Linked DNA regions of Homo sapiens: region 1 is linked to region 2. Evidence: fine-mapped expression QTL. A gene starts in region 2. The other region holds a variant in brackets. All regions are shown on one strand. Distances are between the middles of the regions.

Region 1 (5,385 bases), 28 kb before region 2:
TGGATGGTGGTTTTAGGGGGCTATTTGTGTTGGTCTAACCTCATAGAACCAAATACAGAAAAGGTTAACTTTACTACTTATAAGTTATACTTGACAGAAACGGTAAAGTAATAATAATAATAATAGTACTCAGGCTAGGCATAGTGGCTTACACCTGTAACTCCATCACTTTGGGAGGCCAAGGTAGAAGGATCACATGAGCCCAGCAGTTCAAGACCATCCTGGACAACAAATTGAGACCCCGTCTCTACAAAAAAAATTTTAAAATTAGCTGAGTTTGGTGGTGTGCACCTGTAGTCCAAGCTACTGGGGAGGCTGACGTGGGGGGATCATTTGAGCCCAGGACTTCAAGGCTACAGTGAACATAGTCCCACCACTGTACTTCAGCCTAGGCAACAGAGTAAGACTTTGTCTCAAAAAAATAAAATAAAATAATTGTATCTGCCTGACAACATTCCTTCACCCACATTCAGTCAATGTTAAGGCTAGGTACCATGTGCTAGGAACCTGCAAGGCACTGAGACACGCAGAATCCTTGCAGCTTCCAATCTGGTGTAGAAGACAGATGTTAGACAAATAAATTAGATAATAAGATCATTTCAGAGAGTGGTATGTTCTGAGAGAGAATAAAATAGGGTTTGGGATGGGGGGTTGGGGGAAGGATAGCATTAGGAGATATATCTAATGTTACATGACGAGTTAATGGGTGCAGCACACCAACATGGCACATGTATACATATGTAACAAACCTGCACATTGCTCACATGTACCCTAGAACTTAAAAGTATAATAAAAAAAAAAGAAGAAAATAAAACAGGGTGGTGAACCTAGATGGTAACTGGGGAGGGAGCTAAAGTGAGGTAGAATTAGTACCCCCTAGGTACTAAGTACATTATAAGCATGAACTCACTTTATCTTGGGAACAACCCTCTGAGATAAGTTTGTCATTTCCATTTTAAAGATAAAGAAACCAAAGCGCAAAGAGATGATAAGTAATTTGTCCAAGATTTCACAAAGCTAGAAAGTCATGTAACTGGGTATCGAACCCGGGCATCTGACTGGAGACCATTCTCTTACCCAGCACTGAGGAATGAGATATATTAATTTAGCCCAACACCTAGCACAGAGTAAGTGCTACATAAATGGCCATTGTTGCTGTTGACATTACAGAGCTTCAATAGGCTGCCACGTCTTTCTGTTTTTCTCCAGGGACCAAAGCGGATGTTGGATGCTCAAGTGCAAACAGACCCAGTATCCATCGGACCAGTTGGCAAATCCAAGTAAACAAATCAGCACGGTTCCCACCAGGTTCTCCTGCCACCAAGATGTGTTCTCCTTACTCCATCTCCTCCCCAAACACGCTCCATGTATATATTCTTCTGATGGCCAGCAAATGAAATTCTGCCTAGAAATTAAGCCCGAGCTGTTGTATATTGAGGTGTATTATTTACGTCTCTGGTCCAGTCTTTTCTGGCAAATAACAGTAAAGATGGTTTAGCAGGTCACCTAGTTGGGTCAGAAGAGTCGATGATCACCAAGCAGGAAAGGGAGGGAATAGAGGAATGTGTTCGGGTTAAGTGATGAAAATGGCAGTGGTGGCCGGGCGTGGTGGCTCTCGCCTGTAATCTCAGCACTTTGGGAGGCCGAGGCAGGTGGATCACCTGAGGTCAGGAGTTCAAGACTAGCCTGGCCAACATCATGAAACCCCGTCTCTACTAAAAATACAAAAATTAGCCAGGCATGGTGGCACACACCTGTAGTCCCAGCTACTCGGGAGCCCAACGCACGAGAACCGCTTGTACCCAGGAGGTGGAGGTTGCAGTGAGCCGAAGTTGCACCATTGCACTCCACCCTGGGCGACAGAGCAAGATTCTATCAAAAAAAAAAAAAGGCAGTGGCAAGTAAGTTATAGAAGAGAAATGCTGCTAGAAGGAATTAAGCGTTGTAGTAAATGCGTGCTTATCCTCTAAGCTTGAAGAAGGGAGACGAAAATCCATTTGTTTAAATTCACATCTCAAGGAGGGAGAACCCGGGCTGTGTTGGGTGGTTGCCAATTTCCTAGAACGGAATGTGTGGGGTATAGAAAAAGGAATGAATAAGCGTTGTTTTTCAAATAGGGTCCTTGTAAGTTATTGATGAGAGGGAAAAGATTGACTGGGGAGGGCTTAAAATGATTTGGGAAAACAATTGCTTTTGAGGCT[C/T]AGTGACAACGGCAAAGATTACAACTTAAAAAAAAAAAATAAATAAAAAATAAAGGAAGTTGCACGGTTATTTTGCAACACAAGGGGGCGGCAAGGTCCCCATTTTTATCCTGTAATACTGTATCCCTAACAAAGATTTGGTCTCTGCTATCTTACATTATTAATGTTTCTCAGATGGCTGAGGGGCTCGCTTCATCTGTTCCGTCTGACACTTATCTCAAGTGTGTCTGTCATTCCTAATGTTCTCAGGATGTGCTCTGATAAAACCCTCCCCATAACCTCAGTTAATAAAAATTTACAGAAGACTTCTCAAATACCTGAGTTGTTTTTAATACCTGTACAAAGGAGTAAATAGGACCCTGAGTCTATTAAAATGTAATTCAAAGTAGCATATGATTGACTGACAGTCATGTAAACTGTATCTTTCTTTTTCTGATTTAATAAAAAATACATTTACTTCTAAAGTATCTTTTAATTTTCAACTTCAAAGCAGTCCCACTCTATATCTGAGATGACTCTAACTTCTACATTATAAAATCCATACTCTTTCTCCATTATCTTCTTTGGAAGATCATTCTCTCCCAGATCTTCCCGGATTTCCTTGTATATGGGCACACACACACACAAATGTGTGCAGTTGTATGTTTGCATGTACACACACATGCATGTATAGAATAGTGCTGTCTTAGGCCAGGTTGCTTGGAGCAGAGCCTGAGATGGGGATTTGGACGCATAGGATATACTGAGAGTGGGCTCCGAGGGAAAGGGAGTAAGAGAAAAAGAAGAGGGCAAGAAAAGAGTTGGGCAAGGGTTGGTTTCAACTGGAGCATGAATTGCACCACCCAGATAGTTTGACCTTGAGTCAAGGGAGCCAGCCTTTGAACCCTGGTAGGTGAATTCTGGGCTGCCCTGGGAGGTGGGGGGATGGGCAAGCGGCCCCCATTGAGCTGAGAAGCTGGGATGCCTAAGTAACTGGAGGATGAGTGCATTGACAGTGTCCACTACAGATACACACCTATATGTTCAGATACATATTTATACCCATATTTGCATATATATGCACATATTCATATATATAAATATATATCATGCAGGAATAGATCCATGCACTCACACAGTCATATTTACATACATGCAAATAAACACATGTAACTAACACAGATCCACACACACACATTGGCTCACACAAATCTATCTCATATGCAATTCATCACACATTGATCGGAGATAAACATTGAATATACTCTCCTGATGTGGATGGACCTCGACTCTAAGGACAAGTTTGCTGCTTAGGCAAATTACACCACGGCTTTGGCAAATAGGCATTTGGAAAATGTGTTCAGAAAAATATGGTATCACTCAAAACCCAAGCGTAAGTGAGGAGGGGATCCTGAGCTGCTGGGGCCTATTAGCTCCCAGCTTGGACAGGTCAAATTCGTGTTTCCAATAAAGACCAGAGGTCTTTTCCTTGCAGCTGGGTTAGTTTTTTCAAACCTCCTGACCATACCTCGAGATTACTCACACCTGTGCCTCACCCAGTTGAGAACTATCTCGTGCCGCTTAGTATCAGAATGCTTAACTTGGCATGAAGCAGGAAAACAGCACTTGGGGAAGCCATTGGTGGGAGGCCCATCACTGCCATCGTCAGAGCACGGGGTGATTCAAGGAAACCAGGCAGCTGCTATTCCTTTGTCTCCAAACACCGTGGGGGTTGTCTGCTGCAACCTTTGGTGAGCTCCTGAGCTGCAGTCCATTGAGGAAGGTGACAGTATCATTTGCAAGTTTCACCTCGCTGGGTACAGGGGCTTTTTGCCCAGATAAGAAATGCCCCTAGGCAGGAGGAAGAGAAACAGACTGAGTAGCCCAGGCCAGTTACTTAGCCAGTTACTAAGGCAGATGGAGCCCTCCCAAGCCCCCACTCAAACAAAACAAAACAAAATAAAACAAAAAAAAAGCCTCTTTGCTGAGAATCTCTCTGCAAAGCATGCCAACAGTTTTTATAACTGGTTTCCTATGCTCCTGGGCCAAAAAAGAGAATAGTCTTTTAATGAAATTGCTTTTTTTTAAAAAAGCAAGAAATGCCAGAGAGAAGTAAAGCGCATGACTTACTGGGAGAACTCTAAATTCAGTTATGGCTTAAGAAACAAGTTAATACTCCATTTTTGTGTTTGTGTGTGTGTGTGTGTGTTATTGTTGTTGAGATCCCATTTCCAATGCATTTACAATAAATACTAATGCCCACCCCTTATGCAGAACTAGAGTGAAAAAGAGCTGAAACTCACCAATAAACCCAAGAAAGCCTTTAGGACACAGATTCCCAGAAATGCCATCAGACAGAACAAGCAGTGGGGGAAATAAGCAAAGCAAAGGTGGCACACAGAAAAACATGATTAAAAGAGAAAGAAGAATTAAGACCTGGGGGAGGGAGCAAAAATGACTTTCTTATTATTATTATTTATTTACTTATTATTTATTTTTAGGTACACAGGGAAGTGTGTCTTCTCCCATGTCAAGAAGAAGTGGCCTTTCCAGGAATGGAGCTATTGAGCTGAAATGGCTGCCACTGCGCGTACACACACACACGCGCACACACACACACACACACACACCTCCCTTCCAGTTCCAGCTGACGGTGACTTTTTGACTGGTAACCATAAAAGAATTCATTCAAAAGGGCAGTTGTTCCCAGCAGCCAGTGAGGTCCTTCCTGCATTCGTTGTCTTGGAGAAGGAGGCACATAACAAAATAGAAACCAAAATGGGAAGGAAAAGAGAAAGAAAGTGAAATTCCTGGTCTTTGTTGTATGTATCCCCTTGCTTTTTAGATAAATTATCAGGGGTTTAAACACACACTCTCTCCCCTCCCTCCTCCCACTTCACACACACTAGATTGTTCTTGTCTGTTTGCAAACAGTCCAGAAGCACTGGGGTCTCATTAAATTAGATTCTAAGTGTCTTAAAGAATTAGATTTCAAGAAACCAAGAATCTGTGTCCTTTCCCTTCTCAGAGTGCCTGGAAGGGTGCAGATTTCTCCAATCTGAATCTGACAATGTTATTTCTTATGTCAGATAATCCCAAGTAGATCTTATACCTTAAAAAAATAAAATCAGCTACACTACCTACCTTACAGGGAAGGAAAAAGAACTAATTCCAATTATTAACTAACCCAAGATACAAACACAGG
Region 2 (5,385 bases):
CCCTCCATTTCCCACCTTACTCTGCATGACTCAACCTGAATGCATCCCATTGGCATTCTGGATTTTTCTATAATCTCCTTTCCTTAATAAATTCAAGATTGCTCCACAAATCACCAACAGCTTATAATAGCATTACTGTTTCTGGGCTAAATCAGGGGTGCAGCACTGGCCAGTAGCTATGTCTATGGATTATCTGAATAATTGCTTCAATTCCCCACTTGTTTCTGAGTGAGTGTAGGCCTGACCCTTGGGCATGGCTGAACATTACTCATAGTCAAACCGAGAGTTTCAACGCTAAATGTGACAGTGTGTGCTATATCTGTTTTCTCTCCAGCAGATTATTCAAATACCATCTAGTTGAAGTCAAGCTGTCCCAAAGCCCACTGAATCTTTGTCCCAAAGGTCCCTGTAGGAGCCCTGGAAGAGCTTCCTCTGCTATATTGTAATCTCTTTCTCCGTGAATATGTGATGATTGGATGCTTTCAGCCCAATTCTTTTCTCCTGCCTCATGTCCCCTAGAGATCCCGATGGCTCCTTATAAAAGCCATGTGTGTCTTATCTCTTCCCATGCAGTCGCTAAAACCAGAAAGCAGGCTGGAAAACATTTCCCCCAACTGTACTGTTTTTCATCATTTCTTTCTGACACCCTCAGATAACTTGTTAGCATATTGTCTTTCCCCATTCAGTGCCGCCCTCACCGGGTGTTTGAGGGCTTAATGACATCACCCAGGAATTTGTAATTAGAAACAAAAATGCCTCTTTCAAAATCTATTAACACTGGAAGAGGGAAGAAAAAAAAAAACTTTTTAAGTTGCTGGTACAACCCCAAATGAATGAGGCCTCTTCTGACGAGGCAGAAACACTGCCAGCTTTCAGGACACTCCCAGGAAAGCACTGAAAACAAGTCACAAGTAACCTTTCTGGCTGCTGGTGCCAGTGCCACACGCAAGGGCTGACACCGGGACCTGGGATTGGCCTTGGACATTTTATAGGAAATGACACTGCTCTCTTGACTCTCCCTGGGAGAAGTTGTGTTTCTGGAAGCTCCTATAAGTCTCCAAGAAGTGTTGTGAATTTCTATCTCTGTGACTTTTGATTACTGAGTTTTTATTCATTCAATAAATTGTTTGGAGGGCCTCTCGCAACAAGCCTGTTCCTGGGGTCTTAGCTGCTGTCAATGGGGGTCACGGTGTGTTCCTGTGAATAGTAAGACCAGAGCTCTACCGTCTGATAGCCACTAGACATACGTGACTATTTAAATGTAAATTCAGAATAACAAAAATTAAATGAAGTTAAGAATTCATCCCCTCACAGTTGCGTAGCTGCATTTCAAGAGCCCAGTAGCCACATGTGGGTGGTGGTTACCATATAGGACAGGACAGTCCGGGCGCAGTGGCTCGCGCCTGTAATCCCGGCACTTTGGGAGGCTGAGGCAGGTGGATCACCTGAGGTCAGGAGTTTGAGACCATCCTGGCCAACACGGCGAAACCCTGTCTCTACTAAAAATACAAAAATTAGCCAGCCATGGTGGCGGGTGCCTGTAATCCCAGCTACTCGGGAGGTTGGGGTACGAGAATCGCTTGAACTTAAGAGTTGGAGGTTGCCGTGAGCCGAGATCGTGCCACTGCACTCCAGCCTGGGCAACAGAGAAAGGCTCTGTCTCAAAAATAAATAAATAAATAGATAGATAGATAGGACAGGACAGATGCAAAACATTCATATCATCCTAGAAAGCTCTCTGTGCAGTGCTGGACTAGGTAGTCAGATTTGCCTGGGACACTCTGGACTATACCTGCTGTGTCCGCATCATCATCCATAGCACTCTGTTTCACTCTCAAAAATGTCCTGGTATTTCAGCTACCCTTCTACCCGCTGAGCCACACTCTTTGCTAGGACTTCCCTGAAACCCAAACCCTTTGTCTTGATGAATAAGTTGGCAGTGTCCAGCAGTCTCCCCCACCCCATTCCCTCTCACCTATCAAAAGCAACAATTTTAGGAACAGGAAAAAAAAAAATCCAAGTGAAGAAGTTGTCATTTCTCCCCAATTAAATGATTTCCTTGTCAGCGGTTTCACTTTTGTTTTGTATTTCCCTTTGCCTAAAGCAGCTCTGATGGGCGCCCTTTGCCCTGAATCATGCCCACAGATCTCACAGGAAGGAGGCCGTCCCCGGCTTCTCCTGAGCCCTCCCGGCCACCCTCCCCTACTCCCAGCCTCCCCTTCCCGTCTTGCCCAGCAGAGGGCGTCTGAGTTTAATATTCTCAATAAAGAGCATGTACACAATCACTTGGGATTTTTTTTTTCTTTCTTCCAGTGATACTTTTTCTTTGTGAGCAGCAACTGAGGTGCCAGATAATATAGGTCACCTGAAGGACAAGCCGTCAGAATTGGAGATCAGAGCCGCTCAGGCCGGCCGCCAGCTCGTTAGGGAACCGCACACTCAGCTCCCACCCAGCTCGGGACGCCCAGCGGGAGCTTCCCTTGCAAACACCAGCAGACACCATTTTGCAGAACTCTTAAGAAACGCGGGTTAAATGTGTTAGGTACAACGCATGCAGCCAAGACGGGCATGGAGAGCGAGAGGGCTGGCCCGGGGGGGAAGCAAACCTCCTGATGATGGGATTGCTCTTGCTGGGGGCTTTGTAAACAGCCTTGCATCTCACACCTCTGCCAGGCAACAAAATGGTGGTGGCTAGAAAAAATAAATAAATAAATAAACAACGCGGGGGTGGGGGGAAGGTGGCACCAGGTAGGTACCAGAGATGGACTTTTCTACAATTTTCTTGGGCTGTCCGTTACCAACAGTTATTCTCTCTCTTTTTCTTTCTTCCTTTCCTTCTCTGTCTCTCTCTTTCTCCACCCCCCTCCCTCTCTCTCTCTCTTCCCCCTCCCTCCCTCTCTCTTATTCTCCTTGTTACATTCTCTGCAGTAATCTTCCCCCTCCTACTGAAGGGGGCGGAAGACCCAGCTGATTTGACTCCAGCTCCCCCTCCTCAGCCTTGCAAATTCCTTATTGAGCATAATTTCTGATTTGTTTCTATGTATCTTAAGGGGTGAGGTGCTGAGGCAAGTTAAGAGTTCGGGTTATCTTGTTTGCCTGTTTTGGTGCACTGAACATATTTACGAAATGAAAAAGCTCCTTTCTAAATGGGTGTTAACTGCTCTAAGATTCCCAGGAAACGTGTTGAAGGGACATCTAAATGGAAATTGTGCAGTATTACTCCATTGCACCTTTTAGGAAGAAAACAATTGTGGCTACTCTGTTGGGCTCTGGTGGCAGTGTAGTAGTGAGTGATTTGTGTGACTGCGGCACATTCATTTTCCTTTTCTATTATAATCTCACCTTCCTTAAGGAATAAATGAGACCATACAGTAAAGGGCTAAGCAAAGTTGCATGACACAGCTTCGGTAGCAGCTGTTACTGTTTTATTATGTCTTTGCTTCAAGCTCTCTCCCTGGGCCTGGAGCTTAGCTTCTGCACACAAATGCTTGATGGAGAGAGCTCTGTGTTATCTGAATCCAGAAATTCTACAGCAGAGGTTTGGCTCCACCTCACCATTGATTTCCTTTCGGTGATTTTGTAAGTCATCACTTTGTAATGCAATTTCTCTCTGTATGAAACAAACGAGTATTTTTTTTTACCACCCCTTCTGAGACTGTTGATAAAACACACTCGACAAACGTTTTACAGCACCCTTGTGAGGCACTAAGGAATGGGGAGAAATCTACACCTAACCACCACCACCACCAGGCATCCCAGTGTGCTCAGGGCAGCGCCAGTTTTTGCAGAAGTATTAATAGCCCCTCCTTTCACTCCCCCAAGCGTCTTCGATGGGATGGTTAGTTATAAGGTCACGCTACAGAAAACATAACACCAGGCCTGGAGAAGTTCAGAGTCAGGGTGAGAGAAAAGACTGGGAGGAGGAGGTGGGCACTGGAGACCAGATAACCAGAGAGATAACAGATAGATACATAGATAGACAGGTCATAGAGATACATAGATAAGATAGATGATAGATAAGACACATAGATGATTGATAGATGATAGATAGATAGATAGATAGATAGATAGATAGATAGATAGATAGATGATAGATACATACAATATATATAGATGAGTAGATAAAGATAGATAGGTACAGCCAGGCATGGTGGCTCATGCCTGTAATCCCAGCACTTTGGGGGGCCGAGGCAGGAGGATCACTTGAGTCCAGAGTTCAAGACCAGCCTGGGCAACATAACGGGACCCCGTCTCTATTAAATAAATTTTTAAAAAGATAGATAGGTAATAGATACATAGATGACAGACACATAGGTACATAATACATACATAGATGATAGATAGATGGAAAATAGGTAGAGGATGGATAGATAGATGGTAGATAGATACATACATACATATAAATGGGTAGATATAGATAAGTAATAGAAACATAAACAGGTAATAGACACATAGATACATAATACATATATATATATACATACATCAATAGAGAATAGATGGATAGGAAGATGGATGGATGGATGGATAGATAAATAGATACCTGGAGATTAAGAGAAGGAGAAATGAAGCTAAATGAAGCTTCATTTAGCTGAGAAACTGAATGACCGTGGGCAAATGTGTCATCTCTCTGAGTCACTGCTGCTTCATGGGGAAAGCAGGGACCATTGAGTCAGGCCTGCTTCCAGGGTGTGTAGCTGATGAAATGACAGGCACCTGAGCACCTGGCACAGGACCTCTCAACATGCAACTACGGCATAGCAAAGAAGGGATTTGACTCCTCAAGAACCAAAGAGGAAACCTCAAAAGAAAACCATCATAATACATAGAGTTATGTGTCATTTCCAAAAATATAATTATATCTTATGCTTTATTTTATATATATGTATATATACATGTATCTGTATATGTGTATATATATACATGTATACGTACATATATACGTGTATATATACGTATACATATATACACATGGATATATATACACACACATGGATATATATACATATATGTATATATACATATATACGTATATACATGTATACATATATACGTATATATATGAATATGTGTGTGTGTGTGTGTGTGTGTGTGTGTATATATATTTTTTTTTTTTTTTGAGACAGAGTCTCGCTCTGTCGCCCAGGCTGGTGTGCAGTGGCGCGATCTCAGCTCACTGCAAGCTCTGTCTCCCAGGTTCATGCCATCCTCCTGCCTCAGCCTCTCAAGTAGCTGGGACTACAGGCGCCCACCACCACGACTGGCTAATTTTTGTATTTTTAGTAGAGACGGGGTTTCACCATGTTAGCCAGGATGGTCTTGATCTCCTGACCTTGTGATCCGCCCGCCTCGGCCTCCCAAAGTGCTGGGATTACGGGCATGAGC

What was found. PIP is the estimated chance that this variant, and not a neighbour inherited with it, causes the effect.
Region 1: its variant is fine-mapped to the expression of BCAS1-AS1 in spinal cord (GTEx, PIP 0.97).

The regions. Positions count from the first base shown.
Region 1 is chr20:53,940,821-53,946,205 of GRCh38, reverse strand. BCAS1 (brain enriched myelin associated protein 1) reads left to right here. Exons shown (of 13, transcript NM_001366298.2): 13 at 1,210-2,665. The coding sequence ends at 1,284. It overlaps BCAS1-AS1 (BCAS1 antisense RNA 1), which reads right to left. Exons shown (of 5, transcript NR_199019.1): 4 at 4,811-4,921; 5 at 2,625-4,031. Among named protein-coding and RNA genes, the nearest start is that of BCAS1-AS1, 28 kb to the right of the region's middle. The variant C/T (reference allele first, on the strand shown) is at 2,202.
Region 2 is chr20:53,912,788-53,918,172 of GRCh38, reverse strand. BCAS1-AS1 (BCAS1 antisense RNA 1) reads right to left here and starts at 2,684. Exons shown (of 5, transcript NR_199019.1): 1 at 2,607-2,684.